Linked DNA regions of Homo sapiens. The protein of the gene in region 2 interacts with the protein of the main gene of each other region in a biochemical or structural test. Each region holds a gene or a part of one and is shown on either strand. Other genes may lie near its edges.

Region 1 (5,002 bases), on a different chromosome or scaffold from region 2:
TTCATCTGGCCTGGCATCATCCTTGCAGGCTTTGGATATGTCTCCCGTGTGCGGACCTGGGAGGCAGTGAGAACTAATTATTTCTTTGTTGCTTAACAAAAGGCGGTGCTGTTTGGCACTTTCACAGACTGGCTTATCTCCAGCAACCACTGCAGAAGACAGTGTTATCACCATTTTATAGAGGAGAAAACTGAGACTTAGAGAGGTAAAGTAATTTGCCCAAAGTTACATATCTAGGAAGCCTCAGCACAAGAATTCAAATCCTGGCCATCTGATTCCAGAGCCTGGGCTCTTGGCCAGCACAGCCTGACTGTCACTGGTTGGGGGAAGGGGCGGTGATGCTTTTAGAAACAGGCTTCTTGAGACACCAGGCAGCTTTCCAGTTCCCTGCAAACATGGGGGAATGCCCTGATCAGTCCTAAAGGTGTGACATAGTCTACTTTCTAGGGCAGTTATTTCTTATTGTAAATTAACTAGTGGCTATTATATTTGCTTCTGCCCGCAGGGAGAGAAGATGCTGAGTAATTGTGCCAACACAGGTGCTTAAAGTCCGTGTGACAGTTACTTTTCTTATAGCATGTACTCAATTAATACTTGTTACATGAATGAAGAATGACTTGACTTGCCTCAGTTGGCATTCTGGGGTGTCTACCTGGGTGCAGCATTTCAGGGCTGGGTTTCCCTGAGCAGAGTTGTCTTTGTAGCAGATGGATGGACTCTGTCCTCAGACAGGCTTATAAAGAGTACTACCAGTTCTATTAGCCCCACTCAGCCCCTGCAGTTGTTACAAGGGTTCATGTGCTTTCTGTTGGAATTAGGAGAACAGAACAGTCATAGACTATTTAAAAATATATATTTACTAAAATGTATTTGTTTGTTTTTAATTCCCAAAGCTTACAACCATCTTTTCATCTAATCTGTGAGGTATTTAGTATACAGCAGTGATTTTCTCTCTTTCCTTTTTTATAAAGTGAAGAGGTTCAACTATCCAGAGAGTCCCATCTAACTCAAAAAATGTAATGGCTTTGGTTGGATTGCATCTTCAGTCAGTACCTGCCCATGGCTTAATCAGTATTTTAAGTGAATGAATCATGTTTCCCCACTAGATCATTACGAGTAAGCAGTAAGTAATAAATAGAGAATATTAAGTATTGAACATTATTAGATGCAGCTTTTTGTTCTGCATAGAAGAAAGATGAGGATAAAGGAGGGCATTGAGGCCACGAAGAGCTTCCCAGACACCCACGGCCATCAGATCATCTTCTTCCTGCAGGCAGTGCCTTCTGGTGGAAGGAGCTCAGTCTATCAGAGAATAAACCAGGAGCCTGAAAGCAGTCCTGTGTCTCTGCCTTTAATCAGCTGTCACTTATTCTCTCCCCAAGAAAGGGAAATAGGTCTCAGCAGTTTCTGCCATCCATCATGAATCAATGAAATCATTTCATTAAAAATTTTTTTGTATGAATGTGCAAAATTGCCAACTAGGAGTTCAATGGGAAAAATAAAAAAAACTTAGTTTGTCAACATGATCCATAGACGAGATGATCTTCATGTGTTCCAAAGGCAGAAAGGTGAGAAAAAGGATCTAGCTTGGTCTCTGTCCCTCAAAGACAGAAGAGGTCAGGAAGTCCAATGGGCGATGCTCCTGTAGATAAGGCACAAAGCAGGAGAGCTGAGGGTGTCCAGGTTCCATGCCCTGCATCACCAAGAACCCTTCTCCCTGGCTTGAAATCTTTGGAAATTCCTGGTTTGAGTCACAGAGAAGCATTGTCATGGGCTCAGTAACCCTGCCACCCCTGTTATCTCCATTCTCCCTTTGGTCACAGCAGCTGTCTTAAGACACAAGACCATGCCTGGGCCCTACGTAGGCTGGCTGAGAAGGAAGGTTGCTGCAATGGCTTCCGAACTCCAGGGAGCAAGTGCTGGCTTCAGCTCAAAGTTTCCAGGGGCTGGGAATAAGGTGGAGGAATAGCCATCAGAAGAAAGGGCAGTTGGAAGTATAGTGTCTGGAAGAGGGGGCTCCATGTCCCTCCAGCCTCAGTGCCTGCACGTTCCTCACCAGCTAAGCTGTGCTGAGAAGTGGGTAAGCTAGGTAGTAGCCCACAGCAGAGCCCAAGACCACACCAAGGAAAATCCAGGTGTTGTAGGACATTACGGCCAGCATGATGAAGTAGCCGATGACCACCTGGATGACATGGATTAGAGACTGGCCAAAGTGACACAAATACCACCTAGATAAAAAGGAGAAGCAAGTTAATCCTGGTAATGAGCTGGTAATGAGGAAGCTGGGAGTAGATATCAGGGAGTAGAAAGCTGTTGAGTTACGTGACCCGATTGATTTATAACTTGTATGCTTAACCCAGGAGTGATTTCTTTCTGCCCCTCCCACCCCCGCCCCCAGAAAAAACTCGAGATTTATTTTTAAAGAGACATATCTTCACTACATTTGGTTTCAAGCTTCCTGGCATCCTAGGCAAAGGGGAAAATGAGGGTATCTATAATCTGTCTTTCTGATAAGGAATAAGAGAAAATCATCAGTAAGGCATATTTCCCCCCTGAATCTACTTCGGGAGGCAGTATGACAATGGAAAGAAAAAGCATGGTCTTAGGTGACATTATCAGTTCCTAGACCTGCCACTAACTAAAAGTGGCCTAGACAAATGTCTTAACCTCTCTGAACGTAAGATTCCTTATCAGTAAAACAGGAATGAGAATACTTCCCTTGCAGTGCAGTTGTGAAGATCTGAGACACCCATGTAGGGTGGCTAGTGATGGAGCGGGCAGGCTTATTAAGCACAGGTGAGGCTGGGGCTGGACAGAGGGCAGAACAGGGACCCTAAATGGTTGCCTGATTCGAGTGGGAAGGGAGGAGAGGAGAGCTTGTCATCCTCCTCCCACCAAGTGGGATACATTGCTTCAGGACAGCTGCAGATCCCCTCCTGGATATGGGAGCCTAGTGACCCATGGAACTGGTGAGATTTGGGGGAGGGTGGGTGGCCACCTCATTTGCTAGATAGGGGCCTGCACCTGAAGATCACTGTTCCCTAAAGAAAGCCTTCTGAGCCTCTCAAGTGGCTGGCTGTTCACAGAGTGCTTTGGCCTGGGCATCAGGAGACATGAGCTCTAGTTCACTTGGCTATGTGTAGCCACTTTGGCAAGTCCTGGTCCTTCCCTGGGCCTCGCTGTCCTCTCTGTGAAGTGGGGCTAATGCTGTCTGGGCCAGCCTGTCTCTCAGGGTGAATGTGAGGCTTCTGCCCCTTTCCCATACCCACTGCCTGTACCTGTGGTGGGTTCTGCCAACAGGGAATGAATCTGAGCCTGCAGAGTCCCCGTCTGTCTCTGCGATGGTCTGCTGGCTGATGGAGGTTGGCAGGTTCACCAGTACCTGGTTGAGCAGCTTGGCTTTGCCAACCTTGATGCCTTCATACAGTACAGCCAGAAGCAGGAGCACCAACACCGAAAGGGCCATGCCTGTCAAAGGAGGCAGAGTTGTGGAGACCTGGCCAGGCCAGCACTGTTTCCCTTCCAGCACCTCCACCTGTTCATGGAATCCACTCCATCCACCTCTATCCTGCACCTTCTTCCCCACCCTTGCTGAGTTCCGAACTTCTTCACTGTCTTCACCAGACTTTTCTTAGCTGGAGTGTGGCTTTGAGATCAGGAAGAGAAGCCACCTGAAAAATCCAGGGGCTGAGGGTGAAGAAGCCACGTACCATTACCCCACCCACTCCCCCAGCAGGCTGCACAAATCTGTCGTGACTTCTTGTTAAGTGATGAGTACTGCAAGGTCCTATTTATATGTAAGTATGCAAAAAATGTCTGGAAGGAAAGATAAATAGCACAAGAGTAATAGTTATCTCAGCAAAGTAGGATACAGGTGGTTTTTATGTTCTTGCCTAACTTTCTAAGGTTTCTTTTATATATATTACTTTTATAATAGGGGAAAAACCCAATAAATTATTTTACCAAAACTATCAAGTGCTTATTAGAGCTGCTGTGTAAAATTAACTGTTAATTACTACTTTTGTTTCACTAAGAGGGATAATAAGTGGTCCAGCTAAAGTATTTTACTGGACTCTGCGACATAATAAGAGATATATATCCTGTTTCTGCCCTGGTTTCCTGGCACACGACTTCTAGAACCCTTGGAAACGCTGTCAAGTGGTGTCTTTTTATATGCTAATGAGATGACTGATGGCTGAGGCTCCTGGATGGGGGCTGGTTGCCAGGGGAGCCAAACTTGTGCTTGGAGGTTGGCACTTTCAGCCCCACTCCCTACCTCTGGAAGGAGACAGGGACTGAAGGTTGAATTGATCACCAGTGGCCAATGAGGTCATCAATCATTCCTCCATATGAAGACTCCATAGAAACCCAAAAGAATGCAGTTTAGATAGAAGGAATAAGTTGTTGTATTCGACAGTACAGTAGGGAAATTTATAGTTAACCATAATTTATTGTATATTTCAAAATAGAATTGTAATGTTCCCAACACAAAGATAAATGTTTGAGGTGATAAACACCCCAGTCACCCTGATTGGATCATTACATATTGTATATAGGTATCAAAATATCACGTGTACCCCAAAACATGTACAACTATTATATATGAATAATTTTTTTTAAAAGGACAGGATTTGAAAAGCTTCCAGCTGCTGTGAACACATGGGGGTACCTGGAAGGTGGCAAGCCCAGGGAGGGCCTGGAGGCTCTGAACCCCCTCCTACATGCCTTGCCCCATGCATCTTTTCCACACAGCTATTCATTGTACTTTTTTTTTTTAGATGGAGTCTCGCTCTGTTGCCCAGGCTGGAGTGCAGTGGCGCAATCTTGGCTCACTGCAACCTCCACCTCCTGGATTCAAGCAATTATCTTGCCTCAGGATTCAAGCAATTATCTTGCCTCAGCCTCCCAAGTAGCTGGGATTACAGACACCCCCCACCACGCCTGGCTAATTTTTTTGTATTTTTAGTAGAGACGGGGTTTGACCATGTTGGTCAGGCTGGTC
Region 2 (8,368 bases):
GGTTGAACTAAAAACTGACTGTCTACCTTCCAAATTACCAGAGAAGAACAAGGAAAATACAGACCTGGAGAAAAAGTCGGAAGCCTCTGTAAGTATTAAGAAACAGAAAATGGAAAATAAGATGTTAGATGAGCTCCAAGCATACTTCTTAAAGCCAGAAAGGCGGGTGAGCAGCACCAGCGCGCCGCATGGGCCAGGCCCTGCTACCGCCCCCACGGAGGCCTGGAGAGTCCTCAGGCAGGGACATGGGTGCTCCCACACCACCCCATCCTGCAGATCAGAGTTGCACAGGACGGGAAATGGCCTGCCCAGGGTCACCAGGCCCTCGGGGCAGGCCCTGGGATTTGGTAAACAACATTAAAATCCACAAGAAAACCAGATGTTAAACCAGGTCAAAGAGCTAAGTGACTCCGGGGAACATCCAAAAGGTGGGTGGCGGGACATGACACAGACAAAAGACTAGACAACGAGAAACCACAATGTTGTCCCCGACAAAGCTGCTGCTGTCCACCTGTGAAGTAACGAATGGCTCCTCAATCCCGTTAGAACGGCTACCATCGAAAACAAAATCACAAGTGTTGCCAAGGCTGTGGAGACGCTTTTTCTTCCCCGGCTCGGCTCTCCAAGGTTGGGTTCCCCACTGCGTGCTGGGGAGCCTGCAGCATGGCAGAGGTGGCCTCACACGGCCCCTGAGAACCAGAGCCTTGTGCACTGCTGGTGGGAACGCACGATGCCACAGCCACTGCGGAAACGCTGTGGCGGCTCCTCAAAACATTAAACACAGAACCACCTAATGATCCGGGGTATATGCCCTGGGTATATGCCCAAAGGAACTGGAAGCAGGGTCTCACAGAGATATCTGAACACCCATGTTCACAGCAGCCTGATTCACAACAGCCAGAAGTGGAAGCAACCCACGTGTCCATGGATGAATGGATAAACACAGTGTGGTCTATCCATAACAGTGGAATATTATTTGGCCTTCAAAAGGAAGGAAATTCTGATTCACACTACGACATGGAAGAACCTTAAGTGAAATGAGCCAGTCACAAATGCTGTATGATTCCACTAATACAGGTTCCTAGAGTAGTCAGAGACAGAAAGTAGAATCGTGGGTCCCAGGGGCTGGGGGAGGTGGTAAATCAGCAGGGGGTTAGTGTTTAACTGGGACAGAGTTTCAGTTTTGCAAAATGAAAAAACTTCTAGGGATGGATAGTGGCGATGGTTGTACAGCAGCGTGAGTGTGCTTAGTGGCATAGAACTGTACACTTAAAAATAGGTAAGATGGTACATTTTATGTGGTGTATACTTTACCGCAATTAAAATTAAAAAAGCAATGACTGGGACAGAGCTATAAGAAGTCACCATGCAGCTGTGACTGGCAGGGTCACATATGGAATTCCCCATCCTCTCCCCTGCGTGAACACGCAGCAACACGTGCCCAGGGAAAGCAGGCAGGATCACAAACGCAGTGCAGGGTTTTCACACAATGCGCATGGATGGAGAAGATGAAAATAGGGATACGGAGGCCCTAAGTATTAAATTTAATATGATGACCGGGATGGATACATAAAAACGCCACACTCCTCCCACGGGCTTACGGGCCATTTACAACACGAAAAATTTGTAAGACCAAGAAAGAACCCGCAATGCACACTAAGTCATGGTTGTGGTTCCCGCTCTGCCCCCGACCACAGTGCAATAAAACTAGCAATGAGTATCGGGAGAGAAACCAAAAAGCCGGAGCCCCTGAGATTTGTAAAAACTTGCTTCCAAACAATTCACGTGCTAAAGAGGAAACAGAAACCACAAATACAGAGAATCCAGAAAATATCAACCATGAGCACAAGGCAGAGGCAAACTCAGGGGATCCAGCCAAGCTGCCAAGCAGAGAACCGATGACGTTTCATTCCCACGCCAGCAAAGAACAAAAAGAAATGCGTTAGGCATTCAAGAAAAAGTGTAGAGTAAGTAAACTCAGGAACTGTTTTTTTTTTTTTGTTTTTTTTTTTTGGTGGGGGGAGGGAATCAGTGGGGAAGAGACCAATCACAGATTAACCACTGTCCATTCTGATCAAGAAATAACATGAAAATACAAATTCACAAAATTGCACTAAAAAGGACAGATGTTCACAGATGTAGAGGGAATTAGAAAAATAATTGTTCACATAATGATATGTGGATAAAATGAACAACTTCAGAGGAAAATGTAAAACAACATCACTGCTACAAGACACAGAAAACCCCAGCCAGGCACAGTGGCTCATGCCTGTAATCCCAGCACTTTGAGAGGCTGAGGTGGGTGGATCACCGAAGGCCAGGAGTTCGAGAGCAGCCTGGCCAACATGGTGAAACCCTATCTCTACTAAAAATACAAAAATTAGCTGGACATGGTGGCAGGCACCAGTAATCCCAGCTACCTGAGAGACTGAGGCAGGAGAATCACTTGAACTTGGGAGGTGGAGGTTGCAGTGAGCTGACATCGCTCCACTGCACTCCAGCCTGGGCGACAGAGCAAGACTCCATCCAAAAAAAAAAAAAAAAGACAGAAAACCCAAGGGGACCAATTAACACCAGAAAGATACTGAAAAGGTTGCCAATTTTCTACACCATGAAAAGGAGCCTGGCCCCGGTGGTTTTGCAGGTGAAAATGAAGACCCTCTAGATCTTCAAGGAACTGCTTATTTCCATCATCCTGACTATCCTAGCACACAGGGAAAGAATAAGGGTCCACAACCTGTATCTTGGGAAGAAAACCCAATGCTGGTAATAAAACTCCCAAGGTAAAGTACAGAGCAAGCTCACTCAGGAAGAACGAAGCCACACTCAGAACAAACAGTGGCCAACAGACACCTGAGACTGCCGAAAGGCTGCACAGGAATGAGGAAACGCTCCATTCATCCCAGAAACACGGTAGGTTCGCAGCCTCTGACCACTTCTCCTGTGTCACAGCCTCGCCAGTGCCAGCGGCCTGCCAGCACTGAGACAATGTCCAGCTGGGCAGGTTGTTGTGTCACATCGAACGGTTCTTCCTTCACAGGACAAAAGCTTACTTTACACACGGGAAGAAGATGCATTCTCCATCCCTCTCCCACCCCCACCCCCACAAAAATACAATAAAAAAGCATCTGGCCCCAAAGGAGAAAGACAGAAGGTTTAAGGTGTTAACTCTTGACCACATGGCTCTGAACTGTGTGGATCACCTACATGAAGCTTTTCTTCTGCCGCTGCCGCCACTGAGACAGCAAGACCAACCCCTCCTCTTGCTCCTCCTTCTTGGCCTCCTCAACATGAAGACCTTAGGATGATCCACTTACACTTAATGAAAAGTATATATATTTTCTGTGGGTTTTTTTGAGATGGGATCTCACTCTATTGCCCACGCTGGATTGCAGTGGTGTGATCTTGGTTCATTGCAACCTCCACCCCCTGGACTCAAGCGATCCTCCCACCTTGGCCTCCCAAAATGCAAGGATTACAGGCGTGAGATACCATGCTGGGTCTAATTTTCTTAATAACACTTTCTTTTCTCTAGCTTACTTCATTATAAGAATACAGTATAGGCTGGGCACAGTGGCTCACGCCTGTAATCCCAGCACTTCGGGAAGCCAAGATGCATGGATCACTTGAGGTTGGGAGTTTGAGACCAGCCTGGCCAAGATAGTGAAACCCCGTCTCTACCAAAAATACAAAAATTTGCCGGGCATGGTAGCGGGCACCTATAATCTGAGCTACTGGGGAGGCTGAGGCAGGAGAAACACTTGAACCCGGGAGTTGGAGGTTGTGGTGAGCCAAGATCGCACCACTGTACTACAGCCTGGGCAAAAGAGGGAGACTCAGTCTCAAAAAAAGAAAAAAAAAAAAGAATACAGTATACATACATGTAACATACAAAATATGGGTTAACTCACAGATAATGTTATCAGTAAGGCCTCTGCTCAATAGTAGGCTGTCGTTAAGCTTTGGGGGAGTCAAGAGCTACACTCGAATTTCTGACCATGTGGGGGTTCGGCGCCCCACCCCTGCGTTGTTCAAGGGTCACTTGTATTGCCATCGCCAGCAGCAAAGGAAGGCAGCTGCTGTCACTCCCCTACTCAGCAGTGAGTCACTCTCCAACACAGTACGACTGGAGAACAAAACAGGGAAAATTGTTAAGAGGTGGTAGGACCACCCTAGGTTACGGGTGACCTTATGACTGGCCTGAAGAACCAAGCAGGAAGCAAAAAAACTAAAATAAAAAACAGGCACAGGGTGACAACAGTCACAAAAGAAACACACAGAAGAGGAGCTTCCTCTTAGCCCAGCGATGACCAGCTAGAAAATAAAATGGGGGAAAATATCCCACTCTCGGTAGTGGCCACAGAGCACCGGATTCCTAGACACTGAATGAGTCATCTGCAGGAGAAATGAGATCTCTGTGGAAGGGCCTGGATGCAGACGTGGGGGTGGAGGAACAGACTGCTGTTTCTCGAGCCGGTGGTCTTGATGTAATCCTCCCTGACCAGTTAATACATTCAGTGCAATTACCATGAAAATCCCCCAAATATTGAGCCATTGATAAAAATTGCTAGGAAATTAAGGTAAATTCCAGATGCATCAAAGGTTTGTGTGTTTAGAACCATAAGGCACTGGAGGAAACCTACACAGGCATGCTCTCTGGTTTCACCTCCTCGCTGCCTCCTAAGGGCAGCTTTCGCCGCTGCCTCTCCTGCAAAGGACCCTGCCATCTGCCTCCCTCCACCACCAATCATGTCAAGGTGCCCAGTGGTGCCTGGGGCCCGTTTCCTTCTCTGTCCTCCCTGGCCGTCCTCTCTGGCCTCTCACAAGGAGCCTGGGCCTGTTTCTACCCACTCTCACCGGTCACCCCTCCAAGCAAGGATTTGACATAGGCCAGGCCCTGCTGCCGCCAGAAACACCTCTCTTGGCCATACCTCTTTCTGAACCCTTGATTTGCATAGACTCCTGTCTACGTACCATCACCCCTCAGAATCCAAGGGGAACGCTGAACCCCATGTGGCTGCTGAGGACGGGGCTGCCAGGTGCAGCAAATGACAGGAGGCCCTGCGAAATCTGCATCTCAGAGAAACGGTGGTTTTTGAGGCATGTTCCCGATACTGTATGAGACAGGCTTATGCTTCTTGTTTATCTGAAATTCCAGTTTGCCTGGGGCTCCCATGTTTCCTGGCAGCCCTGGCTGTGGCCTGGGGTGTCATCTCCCCTCCCCTGCACTCTCCTCTCTACTCCCCTGCCCTCCCCTCCCCTCCTCTCTTCTCCCCTGCCCTCCCCTCCTCTCCTCTCCCCTGCTCTCCCCTCCCCTCCTCTCCTCTCTTCTCCCCTGCCCTGCCCTCCCTACTCCCCCAGGAGCTCTGCCAGGTGCTGTTCTTCATTCCTCAGCGCTGCCTCACTTCCTGCATCCAGGCCCAGGGACTGGAGTCCATCACTTTCGCCTCCAGGACTCCCTGGAACCCTCCCACTCCTATCCTTGCCTGGCCTCCTGCCCATGCTGGGGGCCACAGCTGAGGGCTCCTTTAAACCACACCTTCTGTCCTGTCACCCCCTTTAATGTCCTTCAAGGTTTTCCCACTGCCCTAGGAATGAGATCTGAATGCTTAGAGAATGGGTCTTTCCTCCAGCACCAGCTTCGGCTCAAAGCCCTCTTCCCCACCATGCTTCAGTCAAAAAGGCTTCCAGGAACTTCCAAAGCAGGGCCTTTGCACAACCGTCCTTGCCCTCTGCCCTCTGGACTGTGCTGCCGCTGCTCCTCAGGGCTGTGCTCCGTGGTCTCCTGTTTATTTCCTGCTGCATTTAAGTAGCACCACATGTCTACATGGTTGACATGCAGCAGGGCTGCCCCACCCTGGCACTATGGACATTTGGTGTGGGATCATCCTCTGGGGGAGCTGCCCTGGGTTGTGTAGGACACCCTACTGTAGCAGGCTGCTCTGCACCCCTGTCCTTTGCCCCCTCCGAGTCCTGACCCTGGGTGTCCCACGTGTGTGAGAGTCCTGACCCTGTGTGTCCCGTGTGTGAGGTGGCAGATGGGTGTTTCCAGGAGAAACGGTGCAGCGCTTTCCCGGCATTCCCTCATCCATCCACCTCCCCCGCTTCCCTCTCACAACTGTCTCCTCCAGAGGCAAGAAAATCCCTGCAGAGAGAGCCACCCCGGGTGTCAGTCACCAAGTGTCCATTGAAGAGGCAATGCTTTCTAGGCTTCTTCCCCTCCCGGCCTGGGGCCAGGGTACCTGACAGCGGCAGGCCTTACGAAGCAAACACGCGCATGGTTGGGCAAATCACTGACTTTTCTCCTCCCAGGTGGTGTCAGACTCAAGACAGTCCTTCCTGAGACTCGTGTGGGGATACGTGGTCCGGGAGAACAGGGGGCAGGGCTTCCTGGGCAAGCTGTACCCCACCCCCTGGAGTGAGCTGGCCCAGGCCACGGGCCAGGTCACTCTGCCTCCCCTCCTGCCCCCGTGGTTTCCCAGAACTCTCAGCTAATTCAGGAGCTGCTTCCCCGGAGCCAAGGCCTGGGGGCCTGAACATGGCATGTGTGGGGGTGACACTAACGTACCCTGAGGGTCTGCTGGGGGCACAGAGGAAGACCCCCTGTCCCTGGGGTGGTGGGTGGGGTGGGGGTTCTGGGAGGCTGGGCAGTTGTCCCCGTGAGGGGTGGAGGTGGTGCTGACCCTGGCGGAGGGCACAGTGGACAGCCGGGGCCTGGGGTTTTGGGATTCTGGTTCTCGGTCCCAGAGAATCCACCATGTGACTGCACATGGGAGGGAGTGAAGCACTCTCGGAGCACGGGGAGGAGTCACCGAGAGAGCTGAGAACGTAGAGTCGGGGGGCCTGTGACTCAGGCCCATAGCCCTGCACTCCTGCCACATCTGGCTAGTGTGTCCCCCTGGACCCTGCTCCAACAAAGCCACCCAGAAGCCGTGATTTAAAAGATGGTTAAAGTGATGCCTTTCGGATGCCCCAGAAATTACTGAAATAAACCATCTTAGGAAAAAAATATTTTTCCTGAACAGAATAACATCATTCGGTGAAGTGAGTACGATTTTGTTTGGGCTGGGAGCCCTCCTATGGTGGCCGTGTTGACGCATCCTCCTCACTAAGGAGAAACAGGTCCTCCAGGAACATCACCCAGCTGAGAGTCCTCCTGTTCTGGAGCAGAGAGGACTGGGGACAAGGACATCCCTCCAGGGCTTCATATGTCTGCTGTGGGATGTGTCAGAGGTAGGCAGGGGGTATGGCAGGCTGGGAACTGAACAGTGCCCTGGCAGCACCGTCTCTGCCTCTTCATTTGCCACCAAGAAACTGGTGGGCTGGGGCAGTGGGCACATGGTCCAGCAAGTGCTGGAGCCACCAGGGCCACTGTAGCCCGGGCTCCCCTGTCCCCTTCCCAGCTCCCACTGTCTTCCTGGCTGCAGCACCTCTTCTTTCAGGAGGCCTCCCTGGGTCCCCAGTGGAGGAGGAGGCTCTTGGGCAGGATTCCCACAGTCCCCCAGGTACGCCATTCTCGGAGCCCCCTGAGCCTGCCGTCCCTGCAAGGGACAGACACCCATCTCAAACGTTATGGGTCACATGATGGAAATGTGTACCCCATGAGCTCGATCTAGGGGCTCAAAAGGCTTCAGGAGTGCTCTATGTCATGGACAGGTACTCCCCCATGGCTCACAGGGTAGACTGTGGCAGCCCCACTCAGATCCAGCCTGGAGGAAAGACGCAGCTTTTCCCCGTGGTTCCAGCAGAACACTGACTGTCCAGCCTGCGGCCAGTCTCCTCCCTGGGACCATCTGGATGGCCAGGCCTGGCTCAGAGACCACTGAGGGCCAGCCCACCATACCACAAAGACCGTCAGGAAAGAGGGGTTCTAGGCCTGAGTTGGGGGTGGGGGCACTGGCAGGGGCACTGGCAGGCAAGCCCGAGGGGCTTCACTCTCTGGGCTCAGCATTTCCGCTGGAATTCACACTACACATGGCACCTGCATCACACAGTCAGCCAGACGCCAGTTGTAACTGATTAGAAGCTATGAAATGGGCGCATTCTGGGGAAAAAAATCAGGACAGACTTTTCCAACTAGCCTTAACTAAAGATTCCACCTAAAACATTTCCCGGAGCTGAATCTACCATTTGCACTGTGGATATAAATGTTTCTCAACAGCCCTGGCCTCGGACTGGTAATAAGCACGCTGACAGGCATGCGCCTGTGGAAGGAAGACAAAAATCCAGAAATTTCTTCCTGCAGCTAGACACACAGAGAGGGTAAACAAACACACTGAGTTGATTAACAAATAAGAATCCTTCAGATTTGGACTTTGGCATGAGAACTGTGTCCAGATTTAAAACCGCATGGCAATCTGAAGCAGTC
Region 3 (8,368 bases), on a different chromosome or scaffold from region 2:
CGACCTCAGCTCACTGCAACCTCCATCTCCGGGGTTCAAGTGATTCTCCTGCCTCAGCCTCCTGAGTAGCTGGGATTACAGGGGCCCGCCACCATGCCCAGCTGTTTTTTTTTGTTGTATTTTTAGTAGAGATGGGGTTTCACCATGTTGGCCGGGCTGGTCTCAAACTCCTGACCTCAAGTGATCCACATGCCTAAGCCTCCCAAAGTACTGGGATTACATGAGCCACTGTGCCTGGCCAGTCAGCCAAATGCTTTTATGCCACTAATTTATAAATATTTGTGAGAGACATATTTTTCCAGCAGTCACCCAGCAACTACGATTAATGTATATGATCCATCTGGTCATTTTGGTATCACATTATTTTGTTTTCCTTCCCTTCCAAACAAGGTTTTCTTAAATTATTCTGGTAATTACCCTGTTGTCTCCTTTTGGGCTATGTCAGTTTCTATATGCAGACTGAGCAGAATTTCATTTTAGTTCTAAATTTATGACTTTCCATTTGGTGAGGTTAATTATGGAGACATTGATTAGATTGTCTGGTGGTGACTGGGGCTCAGCAATTAAGACACATGCTGCTTATGGAGATGTAAGCTCACTGGCAGAAACCAAAGCAAGTGGGGAGAATTTATTCTGGTCTGGAGAGACAGGGGAAAGGCCGCTCCACCCTGCCATTCTAGGTGTTGCCCATGGCTGTGATGGGTCCCAGGGAGAGGCAGAGTTCCTCTACTGCCCACCTGTCCAGGCACTGGTAGGAGCATTGAGAGCCTTTGCCCCAGTTCCAGGAGAGATGTGAGGGTGTATGCCTGCAGACAAGTTGATAATTTCTCCTACAGCTGTGGTGGCACTAATGAGTCTCCTGCTTGGATAAGATTGCCCAAATTTATTCTAGTAAGTTTTCACACAGTGGTCTAATTAACTGCTTAGTTCACCTTTGGTCTGAGCAATCAGCTTCTACCATGAGAAACAGGGCCTTACGTGTGTGGGTACAAGCTAGTTTGGAAGGAGGCTGGAGTATTGACTTGTGTCTGATTATTTAACCTTCCCTCAAACTGGAAAACTTATTTAATGGCAGGCGGCACCGATGCATCTTTTACTTGCTGCAAGATATGCTGGGTTTGCGCCCTCATGGTTTGGTTTTTCATGTGAAATTTAGTTTTATTTTTTCTAGCATAGTGACCTAAATACTTGCCACACTTACCTCTTGTGATTAGTTTCTTTTAGGTTAAGATCCAACAGTCATAATCTTGTATCAAATCCCTTGTTGGGGGAGGAGGACAGGACATACTAACTTGGCAATGGGATTTGGCTTACCAGAGATGAGAAAGCCAGTCACTTGGACTTGTTTGAAAGAGTGAGACAGGTGGGATAAGTTTTGAATGGGAAAAAGGAAGGAGCATTTGAGATTCTGTATTCATTCAGAGTGAAGGTGAGTGTGCCTTTTCTCTATTTTAAAAATTGACCAATTCTACCCTTTTCTAAAACCTGGTGGAGGTCCAAGGCAAACTGGGCCTTTTGGTCACTCTAGAGCTATTACTTTGCTAGGCAGATTACAGACATTGAATGAAACTTGTGACATAAGCCTATTTGCTGGAAACTGTCACTCCCATTCTCCCCTCTTTTATTTTGAGACAGGGTCTTACTCTGTTGCTCAGGATGGAGTGCAGTGGTGCAATCATGGCACACTGCAGCCTCGACTTCTCAGGCTCTAGTGATCCTCCTACCTCAGCCTCCCAAGTAGCTGGGACCACAGGCATGCACCACCATGCCTGGCTAATATTTTTACTATTTGTAGAGGTGGGGTCTCCTCGTGTTGCCCAGGCTGGTCTTGAACTCCTGGCCTCAAGTGATCCTTCCACCTTGGCCTCCCAAAGAGCTGGGATTACAGATGTAAGCCACTGCACCTGCCCCACCCCCCGTTTTTTTTTTTTTTGAGACGGAGTCTCGCTCTGTCGCCCAGGCTGGAGTGCAGTGGCGCGAGCTCAGCTCACTTCAAGCTCCGCCTCCTGGGTTCACGCTATTCTTCTGCCTCAGCCTTCAGAGTAGCTGGGACTACAGGCGCCCGCCATCAGGCTGGCTAATTTTTTGTATTTTTAGTAGAGATGGGTTTCACCGTGTTAGCCAGGATGGTCTTGATCTCCTGACCTCATGATCCGCCCGTCTTGGCCTCCCAAAGTGCTGGGATTACAGGCATGAGCCACCGAGCCCGGCCCATTTTTTTTTTTTTTTAACAAATGAGAAAACAGAGGCTCAGATGAGTAAAGAAATTTGTCCAAGACCATCCAGCCTCAAGTCTTGGAGTTGGAATTGTTCAAAGACTCCTGGCCTGTTTGATTCTTAATCCCCCACCCCTCCAAATGAGGGCCTGTATTTAACATCTCTCTCCTGCTTATTAGTTTACTTCCTCATTTTTCATAATTTTTAATTTTTGTGGGTATGTATTAGTCTGTTTTTATGCTGCTGATAAAGAGATACCTGAGACTGGGAAGAAAAAGAGGTTTAATAGACTTATGGTTCCACATGGCTGGGGAGGCCTTCCCACAATCATGGTGGAAGGCAAGGAGGAGCAAGTCATATCTTACATGGATGGCAGCAGGCAAATAGAGAGCTTGTGCAGGCAAACTCCCATTTTTGAAACTGTCAGATCTCGTGAGACTGATTCGCTATCATGAGAACAGCACAGGAAAGACCCGCCCCCATAATTCAATTACCTCCTACTGGGTTCCTCCCACAACATGTGGGAATTGTGGGAGTTACAATTCAAGATGAGATTTGGGTGGGGACACAGCCAAACCATATCATTCTGCCCTGGCCCCTCCCAAATCTCATGTCCTCACATTTCAAAACCAATCATGTCTTCTCAATAGTTCCCCAAAGTCTTAACTCATTTCAGCATTAACTTAAGAGTCCACAGTCCAAAGTCTCATCCAAGACAAGTAAAGTCCCTTCCTCCTGTGAGCCTGTAGAATCAAAAGCAAGTTAGTTACTTCCTAGATACAGTCGGGGTACAGGTGTTGGGTAAATACAGCCATTTCAACTGGGAGGAATTGGCCAAAACAAAGGGGCCACAGGCCCCATGAAAGTCTGAAATCTAGCGGGGCAGTCAAATCTTAAAGCTCCAAAATGATCTCTTTTGACTCCAGGTCTCACATCCAGGTCACGCTAATGCAAGAGGTGGGTTCCCATGGTCTTGGGCAGCTCCGCTCCTGTGGTTTTGCAGGGTACAGCCTCTCTCCTGGCTTCTTTCACAGGCTGGCATTGAAAGTCTGTGGCTTTTCTAGGTGCATGGTACAAGTTGTCATTGGTCTACCATTCTGAAGGCTGGAGGACAGTGGCCTTCTTCTCACAGCTCCATTAGGCAGTGCCCCAGTAGGGACTCTGTTTGGGGGATCCGACCCCACATTTCCCTTCTGCACTGCCCTAGCAGAGAGTCTCCATGAGAACCCCTCCCCTGCAGCAAACTTTTGCCTGGACATCCAGGCGTTTGCATACATCCTCTGAAATCTGGCAGAGGTTCCTAAACCCCAATTCTTGACTTCTGTGCAATGGCAGGCTCACTACCACTTGGAATTGACCAAGGCTTGCTTCCTCTGAAGCCACAACTCGAGCTCTACGTTTGCCCCTTTCAGCCATGGCTGGAGCGGCTGGGAGGCAGGGTACCAAGTCCCTAGGCTGCACACAGCATGGGGATCCTGGGCCCAGTCCACAAAACCACTTTTTCCTTGTAGGTCTCTACACCTGTGATAGGATGGGGTGCCATGAAGACCTCTGACATGCCCTGGAGACATTTTCCCCATTGTCTTGGGGATTAACATTTGGGTCCTCATTACTTAGGCAAATTTCTGCAGCCGGCTTTAATTTATCCTTGGAAAATGGGATTTTCTTTTCTATTGCATTGTCAGGCTGCAAATTTTCCAAACTTTTGTGCTCTGTTTCCCTTATAAAACTGAATGTCTTTAACAGCACCCAAGTCACCTCTTGAATGCTTTACTGCTTAGAAATTTCTTCCACCAGATATCCTAAATCATCTCTCTCAAGTTCAAAGTTCCATAAATCTCTAGGGCAGGGGCAAAATGCCACCAGTCTCTGCTAAAATGTAGCAAGAGTCACCTTTGTCCCAGTTCCCAACAAGTTCCTCATTTCCATCTGAGACCACCTCAGTCTGGACTTTATTGTCCATATCACTATCAGCATTTTGGGCAAAGCCATTCAACAAGTCTCTAGGAAGTTACAAACTTTCCCACATTTTTCTGTCTTCTTCTGAGCCCTCCAAACTGTACCAGTCTCTGCCTGTTACCAAGTTCCAAAGTCACTTCCACATTTTTGGGTATCTTTCCAGCAGTGCCCCACTCTACTGGTACCAGTTTACTGTATTAGTCCATTTTCATGCTGCTGATAAAGACATACCTGAGACCAGGAAAAAAAGGAGTTTAATGGACTATGGTTCCACATGGCTGGGGAGGCCTTCCCACAATTATGGTGGAAGGCAAGGAGGAGCAAGTCACATCTTACATGGATGGCATCAGGCAAAGAGAGAGCTTGTGCAGGCAAACTCCCATTTTTAAAACTGTCAGATCTCATGAGATTGATTCACTATCATGAGAACAGCATGGGAAAGACCCACTCCCATGATTCAATTACTGCCCACCGGGTTCCCCTCACAACATGTGGGAATTGTGGGAGTTACAATTCAAGATGAGATTTGGGTAGGGACACAGCCAAACCATATCAGGGTACATACTAGGTGCATATATTTTTGGGGTACATGAGATGTTTTGATACAGGCATGCAATGCATAATCATTACATCATGGAGAATGGGGTATTCATCCCCTCAAGCATTTATCCTTGTGTGATTACTTTTGCACCAACCTAATACAAGCAATCCAATTATACCCTTTTAGTTATTTAAAAATGTACAATTGAATTATCATTGACTATAGTCACCCTGTTTTTCTATCAAATAATAGGTCATATTCATTCTTTCTAAGTATTCTTTTTGTACCAATTAACCGTCCCTATCTCCCCCTCACCCCTGCCCCATACTTCTTCATTTTAATTCCCAGTCTTTTTCCTTTCTTTTTTCCCTCTGCCCAGCCTCTGCATTGCCCAGAGGCATTTTCTAATGCTCATGAAAGCTAGTCTGTGCTCAAAGTATCCTTGATCCTTGTTCTAAGTCAATGCTGTCTAATAGCCCTTTCTGCAACAATGGAAGTGTGTCTATCTGTGTTTCCCAATATAGTAGCCACAAGCCACAAGTGGCTTTTGAGCACTTGAAATGTGCCTAATGCAGCTGAGAAGCTAAATTTTAAATTTAATTTTACTTAATAAACTTAAGTAGCCACTTGTGACAATATGGTGCTACCATATTGGACGGCCTAGTAAATCTAACTCATTGGTTCTTAAGTTGAAAATGTGAGCCCTTGTCATTGAGGTCAAGTTAGCTTTGTCAGTGTTGGGCTAAGCTGTAATCTCATATAGGTTTATGGTTTGCTTTTCTTGACCTTGCATGGCTGTTGTTTCATTAGTATCCCTTCTTTGTTCTAATCACAATTTTGGTGGTTTGGGGATTTTGGTTTCTTACAGGTTCAGCGAAATGAGGACAAATCTACTACCTTGAAATTGGCTGATTTTGGACTTGCAAAGCATGTGGTGAGACCTATATTTACTGTGTGTGGGACCCCAACTTACGTAGCTCCCGAAATTCTTTCTGAGAAAGGTAAGTGTTACACATCGATCTGTGGGACTCTAGTTCCCTTACTAACAAATGTTTCATTTGTCATATTTACTAGTTTTCAATATGGAATAAATCTCAGAGAACTGACACTTAGGCTTGGATTTGGACTTCAATGAAAATATTTGAAGTAGGCTTGACCAAAGCATGAGAGCTTTCTCCTCATTAGGGCTGCCCTTGTTACAGTCAATGGATCAGTGTGTGTGCATGTGTGTGTGTGTGTGTGTGTGTTTATTGTGTTTAGGCAGGACAGTGAGATGAAAGATGATGGAGAATTGGGTGGGGAACTCAAGCAAGCAAGGCTACTTGACCCAAGGCTATCTCTAATAGGAGAGAATTGAAGCAGTCCTTATGGTACTTGGTTTAAAAATTTCTTCACCAACCTTGCATTTAAAGGAAAAGGATCCCATTTTCCTCCATGAACTCTATGAATATTTATTACCTACTTGTATATTATGCAAGGATCCAATGAGCTGTTTTAGTGACAAACTTTCTAAAACATTTAAAAAGGAAATAATAGTTATGATATGGCTCTAAATATATGAATGACTATTTGACTACTGTGGCACTCCAGGAGAAACCAATTTACCCACCATTGGTAAGATGGGAAGACTCTCATTGGGTTGCAGGGTTGGTGACAGGGAGAAGGGATGGACGGATAGTTTCCCAGCAGCAGAAGCATCAGGATAATTAAGATGAGGAGATGGCCAGGGATGGTGGCTCATGCCTGTAATCCCAGCTCTTTGGGAGGCTGAGGCAGGTGGATCACCTGAGGTCAGGCATTTGAAACCATCCTGGCCAACATGGTGAAACCCTGTCTGTACTAAAACTACAAAAAAATTAGCTGGGCGTGGTGGCACATGCCTGTAATCTGAGCTACTCGGGAGGCTGAGGCAGGAGAATTGCTTGAACCGGGGAGGTGGAGTTTGCAGTGAGCCAAGATCGTGCCATTGCACTCCAGCCTGGGCAACAAGAGTGAAACTTCATCTCAAAAAAAAAAAAAAAAAGATGAGGAGATGACAACATGCATGAGGTCAGGTGTTAGAGACATGGAGAAGACTAGCCTCAATGGACCAGAGAGAAACACAATTGGTTGGTATATTAGTCAGGTTTTTCTGTTGCTATAGAAATAACGAAGGCTGGGTAATTTATAAAGAAAAGAGGTTTAGTTGGTTCAGGGTTCTGCAGGCTGTACAAGCATGGTGCCAGCCATCTGCTCTGCTTCTGATAAGGGCTTAAGAAGCTTACACTCATGGTGGAAGGTGACAGGGAACCGGCATGTTACATGGTGGGACTGGGAGCAAGAGAGAGAGAGGGAGGTCCCAGACTTCTAAACAACCAGATCCTAAGTGAACTACCTGAGTGAGAACTCACTTGTCACCAAGGGGATGGTACTAAACCATTCATGAAGGATCCACCCCCATGATCTAATCACTTCCCGCCAGGCCCCACCTCCAACATTGGGAATCACATTTCAACATGAGATTTGGAGGGGACAAATATCCAAACCGTATCAGTTGGGTAGGTTGAGCTTAAATTCTCCACAAATGGGAAGACTGGTTAGAGATGTTTAGACTTGGTGTGGCATCGATGAACTGGATAAGAGAAGAAAAGAAAGCAAATAGGCAACACAAACTCTTGGGAAAACCACATATTGGTGGTAGCACCAACTAAAACAGGGTGTTGGAAAGGATAGCTCTTTTGGGAGATAGGGGGATGGGCTGAGTTTAATTTTGAATACACTGACTTTGTAGCGATATCAGGATGGATAATGGAGTTGTCCACTTGGCAAGGAGGTGAAGCTGTGAGCTGAACATGTGGCTTTGAGACTCCTCAACACAGAGATGGTTGATAATGGGCTCCTTGGTGATGCCAGGAATGAGAGCCAAGGACAGATTCTTGAGGAGGCCAAGAGCTCAGGGATGAGAGAAGGAAGGAGGGATCAGCAGAGAAAAGGCTGAGCAGCCCAGAGAGGATCTGAAAAGTGCATTGTCACAGAGGCCAAGGGACATTTCTAGGATTGATGAGGTCCAGGAAAATCAATCCCTCTCAACAGTGAGATGGTTGAGAACTGAGAAAAGACCAAAAGAGGTCATTAGTGACTTATTCTTTTAATATTTTCCTGCAGATTTGTATTTTGACAAACTTACTCTGGGGCTTAATTATGAATATCTAACTTCTAAATTACAGTGGTCAAGTGTTTTCTTTTTCTAACTGTAAAAAGTTAGTTAGAAAGTGTTTGAAAATGTCTATATTGCTGTGATAAGTTTTGGGAGGACAATGTGTAATATGTATCAAAAACCTTTACTGTATATTGCTTTGTCTATTTCATTGCTGGAAGGTTATTTTAGGAATATAATCAGACATGTGCACAAATATTTAATAAATGCTCATCAGAAAATTCCTTACAGCTGTAAAAAAATTAGTAAAAACTTAAATTACAACATAGGGATTTATTATGTAAAGGGGATACTAATAGTTATTAGAAATCATTTTTGTAAAAAATATTTTTGGTATTTTTCATAGGAAATTCTTATGTTGGAAATGTCATTGTATAATATTCAGTAAATAAAATAGAGTATAGGTGCAATGTGATCCTATTTTTATTTAGAAAAGTAAATAAACATTTTATTTA

What was found.
Region 1: the proteins of RAMP1 (region 2) and SLC31A2 form a complex in vitro, tested with the Homo sapiens proteins (one study listed by BioGRID).
Region 3: the proteins of RAMP1 (region 2) and DCLK3 form a complex in vitro, tested with the Homo sapiens proteins (one study listed by BioGRID).

What each region holds. Positions count from the first base shown.
Region 1 is NC_000009.12:113,159,975-113,164,976, reverse strand, and holds the end of SLC31A2 (protein SLC31A2), read right to left. Parts: intron 3,972-5,002; exon of another isoform or gene 3,469-3,971; coding exon 3,279-3,468; exon of another isoform or gene 2,229-3,278; coding exon 2,060-2,228; 3' UTR 837-2,059; downstream 1-836. UniProt on the Homo sapiens protein: Does not function as a copper(1+) importer in vivo. However, in vitro functions as a low-affinity copper(1+) importer.
Region 2 is NC_000002.12:237,862,223-237,870,590, reverse strand, and holds part of RAMP1 (receptor activity-modifying protein 1 isoform 1 precursor), read right to left. Parts: intron 688-8,368; exon of another isoform or gene 609-687; intron 1-608. UniProt on the Homo sapiens protein: Accessory protein that interacts with and modulates the function of G-protein coupled receptors including calcitonin gene-related peptide type 1 receptor (CALCRL) and calcitonin receptor (CALCR). Required for the transport of CALCRL to the plasma membrane.
Region 3 is NC_000003.12:36,718,877-36,727,244, reverse strand, and holds part of DCLK3 (serine/threonine-protein kinase DCLK3), read left to right. Parts: intron 1-5,585; coding exon 5,586-5,718; intron 5,719-8,368.